Linked DNA regions of Homo sapiens. The protein of the gene in region 1 purifies or fractionates together with the protein of each later gene. This does not show direct contact. Each region holds a gene or a part of one and is shown on either strand. Other genes may lie near its edges.

Region 1 (3,500 bases):
ATTACCTTTACATAACTGTCTCTAAACCAAACTTCTTTTTTTCTGAGATGGAGTCTCGCTCTGTGGCCCAGGCTGGAGTGCAGTGGCACAATCTCAGCTCACTGCAACCTCTGCCTTCTGGGTTCAAGTGATTCTTGTGCCTCAGCCTCCAGAGTAGCTGGGATTATAGATACATGCTACCACACCCGGCTAATTTTTGTGTTTTTAGTAGAGACGAGATTTCACCATGTTGCCAAGGCTGGTCTCAAACTCCTGGGCTCAAGCAATCCACCCGCCTCGGCCTCCCAAAGTGCTAGGATTGATTACAGGTATGAGCTACCATGCCCATCCTCTAATCCAAAATTCTGCCTTCAAACTGCTAAAGCATAAATAGACTAATTAGACAAACAATTTATTCCCTTTTCTTTATTTTGTTAGTTGTTTGAATTGAAGTGAAAATAGGTAGCATGAATAAAATTTTTTAAGCTGTCTCTCCTTGGCCGGGCATGGTGGCTCATGCCAATTATCCCAGCACTTTGGGAGGCTGAGGCAGGAGCTCAGGAGTTTGAGACCAGTCTGGGCAACATGGCGAAACCCTATCTTTACAAAAAAAAAAAAAAAAAATAGCCAGGTATGGTGGTGTGTACCTATATTCCCAGCTACTTGGGGTGCTGAGGCAGAAGAATCGCTTGAGCCCAGGAGGTCAAGGCTGCAGTGAGCCTTGTTCACCCACTGCACTGCAGCCTGGGTGACAAAGCAAGATCCTGTCTTGAAGAAAAAAAAAAAAAAATTGGCCAATTTACAAAGACTCTAAAACCTAGAACAGACTTGAAGCTGTCTGGCTCCTAAACTGGTCAACATAGCACAGGAGTAAACAAACCAATATAGATTGTCAGAGCTGAGATTTACTACCCTGTATTATAATCCAGCCCTCATGTGTTTCAGAAGGTCATGCTTTGCTCAAAATTTTCTCCAAAACTATCCCTTAATATATTCTGAAGTTCATGAAACTAACCGGGTTTTCAGGGCACTGTAAAGGCCTTGTTGCAGTAGCGCAATCAGCTTCACCAAAACATCAGGCAAATCATATTTGTACATATTAACCATGTTGTTTTTCTAGACCTTAAAGGCCACCCTGTGAAGCTGCTGCCTGGGTATTGTGGTCTCTTAAAATGGTCCTGGTGAAAAAAACAACTTGGTTAGAGTTAATCAATGTAATTAACTCCTGTTCACAGACGACGGTTTCCTTGCTCTCTTAGTTCCAACAATGACTCCTTCAATGAATGTAAAGTCTCAATAGGTAACTGTTCTATCTCCTATTTAGATATCTACTATGTGAGGAATCTACAAGTGAATTATCGCTACTGAAAAGAAGATAACCTGGGTTCTGGTCCCAGGTACGTCTTAATTGTGCAACTCTGTCATTAAGCCTCCCTGCATCATGTAATGAGTGGGTTGGAGAAAAAATGTTAAAAGTCCCTCCCAGCTATAAAGTTTTAATTCATAACTTAAATTGCTGTCACTTCCTATTCTATGTTGAAGAAAGAATGTAAGATGCAGACACAGGTTCCATATTGCTATGGCATGATGCAGGGCCATACCAAATCAAATTGGCATTTCCTCATGTTCCATCTGCTACTAAAATGTATTATTTGTATGTCAGGCTGCAGAGTGGTCAAAGAACAACAGATTTTCTTGGCACTCCCTGTACATATTCCATGTAGATAAATATGGTGCTATCTCTAGGAAAATACTACAAATAATAACTGTCAATTCTTAGCAACTAGCAACATGCATTATTAAAAACAAACACAGCCTCTCATCTATAAGTTCCACTTCATAAAACATGTCTTTATGAGTCTTTATTGTTCCCATATGTGTAGCTCCACAATATTTTTGCTGCAGAATACAAGAATTACATAGATCACTAAAGTCCACAGATAATTCAAAACCTTCTGCTAGCCAATTATTCAATCCCTTCCACTGCTACGCTATTTGCCAGAGATGCTAACAAATAGCATAGTCAACTGGTTTGGGTTTCATACACTTTTCCAGACATGCTTGCTTTCTAATGGCCTATTCAAACAAGAGATTTATTTCTCTTAATTCTAAGTCTTTGAGAATTTGACCAAGAGGCATGAAATGTTCAATTCATTCTTTAAAACTGTTGCCTGGGGTCCCCTTTTGTCCCCCATTTAAACCTATCCACTGTTTAACCACTTGTATCATTCCTGATTCTTCTGTCTTACAATTCTGTGCTACATTTCTCTGCATGTGGTTTTGATTACTGTTTTTTCTGTATTCTTTATTGTATTCTATTTTAATTCTCCAAAAACTCAATTTATACACTGTCCATGAACTTATGAAAAAAAAGTGAAAGCAAAAATGATTCTCCACAAAACAGAGCAGCCAACTGAAAACTTTAAAAGCTTGAAAATTTTATGAGGCAATTAATATGAACTGATATGACATCTTCAATTAGATTCAAAGACACTTAGGATTACAAAAATTAGTCAGGCATGGTGGTGCACGCTTGTATTTCCAGCTACTCAGGAGGCTGAGGCATGAGAATCACTTGAAACCGGAAGGCAGAGGCTTCAGAGAGCAGAGATCGTGTCACTGCACTCCAGCTTGGGTGACAGAGTGAGACTCTGTCTCAAAAAGAAAAAAAAAAGACACTTAAGATGAAGAGAATTCCAACTCCTTATCTTATAGATAAGAAAACCGAAACCCAGAGAAAGGCTAAGTGACTTGCCCAAAATGATACACACAACTAGATACATCTATGATCTTATACATAAAATTACGAATTATCACCAGGAATGGTTCTTTTCACAGTTAAGAATAGCCCCATGAAGTCTGTTCCCAAAACCTGTGCAGGCAGCCACAGTGGCAAAATTCCATATCTGGGCCGGGTGCAGTGGCTCATGCCTGTAATCCCAGCACTTTGGGAGGTGGAGGCAGAGGCAGGTGGATCACCTGAGGTCAGGAGTTCGAGACCAGCCTGGCCAACATGTCGAAACCCCATCTCTACTAAAAATACAAAAATTAACTGGGCGTGGTGGTGCGTGTATATAATTCCAACTACTCCAGAGGCTGAGGCAGGAGAATCACTTGAACCCAGGAGGTGGAGGTTGCACTGAGCCGAGACCACGCCACTGCACTCTGGCCTGGGCAGCAGACCGATACTCCTTTTATATATATATATATATAAAATAAAAATTAAAGAATAAAAAAATTCCATATCTGAAGTCATTCCTTTAGGTCAAAACATTATCTCAAAAATTCTGAGATAAATAAAGTTGTTATTAGGGAAAATGGGAGAGAGTAACAGGGGAAAATATTCTAGAGTGTTAGGTTCTAAGTTAGAAGGTAGAAAAAAAAATACATATAATCAAAATGACTCTTGAAATCACCCACACACCTAAGTCACCTATAGAGTCCAATATGTATGTTTATTCATTGTGTTTTTCTTGAGACAGAGTCTCACTCTGTCAGCCAGGCTGGAGTGCAGTGGCGCA
Region 2 (2,650 bases), on another chromosome or scaffold:
AGCCAAGATTGCACCACTGCACTCCAGCTTGGGCTGAAAAATGGCCCCCAAAAGATATCCATGCCCTAGTCCTTGGAACCCGTGAATGTTACCTCATATGACAAAAAAGTGGGGGGCGGGGGCGCAGAGGGTTTTTGCAGATGTGATTTAAATTAAGGATTATGAGATGGGAAGATTATCTGGGTGGGCCTGAAATGCAATCACTTGTTTATCAGAGGGAGGCAGAGGGAAATTTGGTATAGACACACAGAGAAGGCAGTGTGACCACGGAGGCAGAGATCAGAGTGATACGGCTGCAAGTCAAGGAACACGGCAGCCACCAGCAGCGAGAAGAGGTGAGGAACCACTCTCCCCTCGAGCCCCGGGAGGGGGTACAGCCCCTGGGTGTGGGCCCAGTGCTGCTGATTTTGGACTCGGCCTCCAGAACTGTGAGAGAAGAAAATATTGTTTTAAGTCACTCAGTTTGAAGTAATTTTGTTATAGAAGCCACAGGAAACAAATAAAGAACTAATCAAATCTCTTTAATGTTTAAGCCTATTTGTATCTGATATTTTGTTACTTGCAGCCAAAAGCAGCCTAGCTGATACACAATCGTCCCCCTGCCCCCTGGTCACCCTTACAGCTCAGAGATGAACTCTAGAGAAATGCAAAGCCCCAGTTGGGAGCCAGCCGGAGACTCTCCTGGTCTTTAGCTGGGAAAATAGGACTGTGGGGGTGGGGGCAGCATCAGATGGATCACAGACTCCAAGCAAAGGCATGATAGGAGTTTATTTACAGACAAGACACAGCAACCAGCACCCACTCAGGCTCTGACCAGGGGAGGTGGTAGACAAGACCCCAGATATATATAAATATACATATAGGTCCCAGCACCATCAGCACCAGAACGTTCCCCAGCCAGGTCCCTGCCAGAAGGACCAAGAGTCAGGCAGGATTGAGGACATAGAAAGGAGAGGGCCCCAGTCTTTGCCAGGTATCAGTGATCACCTGTTATGGTCCCCATGTCAGAGGAAGAAACTATCCTTGGCCTTGAAGTGTGGACACTGAGGAGCATGAGGACGGAGAGACCCTCTGGAGGCGCCCCCATTCCTGTGTCCAGCCTGTGCCCTCAATGCCAAGGCCACAGAAGCGAAGTGCCAGCAGGAGCAGCTTGGGGAATGGAGACACTGCAGGCCCCTCCAGGACCATCCAGGAGCCAGGCATGGAGGTGGGGTCCTAGGCCATGGCTGCCCATCACACAGGAGCCTCCCCCAGTTTGCTGGTGGCACTTGTGACTCGCTTATTCTCCCGGAGGTTTCGGAGGCGGGCGCTGAGGCTGCTGATCTCTTCCACATAGGCCTGGGGCACCCACCCCTTCTCACCATCTGCCAGGCGGACCCCTTCCAGCCAGCCTAGGGACACATAGGCCAAGAACAACAGCATCAAAGGGGTACCAGGGCCAGGCCTGGAAGGGAACACCACAGCCCTGATGCAAGCTTTGTCTGCACCCTTGGGGCCAAGGTGACATCATCTCAGCATCTCTCAGCTCCAGGAAGGACCCTGTCTTGAGCTGTCTTGCAGATGAACTTCTGACCTGTTTTTCCTGATATCCTCTGAAAGGGTATTTCCCACTCTCCCCCATCACTCTCCATCCTATATCTTTACAAGCAGGAAGTTCCTCCTCTCATCTAACCTGATTCCCACATGCTGTGGCAGATCAACACTTGCAGAACCTTTCCCTGTGATATCTTAGTCATCTAGCCACCTCCTGCCCACCCAAGCCCCATCAGGGACACTTTCCCAGGAGGCCCCCTCACCGTCACTGGTCCAGGTCCTCACTGACAGGATGTCAGTCTTCTCCAAGGTCAGCTCATCTGGGTGCAGTGCCTTGTATGTCCTAACACACTGAACCTGGGGGCAATCTGACAGCCCAAGGGAGGCTCAGGGAGTCCCAAGGGCAGGATGGCAGGGGGAGGAGCATGGGTAGGGCAGGGAGGGGCAGTAGGAGGAAGTAAGGGGGTGGGAAGGTGGCCATTGAGGCTTCTATTCCTCTGCCACTGCCATGCCACAGGCCCACGTTCAAGCAGGCATACCCTCTGCCCACCCTGGCCTATCTCCTCTCCTACCCTAAACACAAGTGCAGGATTAATCCAGTCCCTCCCAGCTTCAGTTTCTGCCTCTATACCAAGGGCTGTCCCCTCCCCAGCTCAAGCCAACACCTTGCTTGTGACCTTCAGACCCCAACGTCCAACTGCCCCCAGATACCCCACAGAAAACAGTAACGGCCCTGCAATGTGCCCCTAACATCACTCTGGTGCTCCCTTTGGCCCATCCTTCCCAACTGGGATTCAAGCTGCATCGCTCCCGTTTAAAGCCCTCCAGGGCTTCCCAGTCCTCTTAGAATAAAATCCAAAGTCCTCCCTAGGCCCTACAAGGCCCTTCATGGTCTGGCATCGCCCCCTGCTATCCTCGTCTTCTCCCCTCCACTTTCCCTCCCTACTCTCCCCTCCACTTTCCCTCCCTACTTTCCCCTCCACTTTCCCTCCCTACTCGCTCACAAAGCTCCAGCCACACCAGCCTCCCTGCTGTTCCTCACTCTAAGCTCCCTCCTGCCCCAGGGCCTTTGTGCTGGCTCTTCCTTCTGCCAGATGCTCTTCCCCAGATCTTTTCG

What was found. The genes of interacting proteins can lie anywhere in the genome.
Region 2: the proteins of SRGAP1 (region 1) and ARHGEF19 purify together in Homo sapiens (affinity purification with mass spectrometry; one large-scale study listed by BioGRID and IntAct). This does not show direct contact.

What each region holds. Positions count from the first base shown.
Region 1 is NC_000012.12:63,847,700-63,851,199, reverse strand, and holds part of SRGAP1 (SLIT-ROBO Rho GTPase-activating protein 1), read right to left. Parts: intron 1-3,500. UniProt on the Homo sapiens protein: GTPase-activating protein for RhoA and Cdc42 small GTPases. Together with CDC42 seems to be involved in the pathway mediating the repulsive signaling of Robo and Slit proteins in neuronal migration.
Region 2 is NC_000001.11:16,197,354-16,200,003, forward strand, and holds the end of ARHGEF19 (rho guanine nucleotide exchange factor 19), read right to left. Parts: intron 1,902-2,650; coding exon 1,797-1,901; intron 1,392-1,796; coding exon 1,234-1,391; 3' UTR 501-1,233; downstream 1-500. UniProt on the Homo sapiens protein: Acts as a guanine nucleotide exchange factor (GEF) for RhoA GTPase.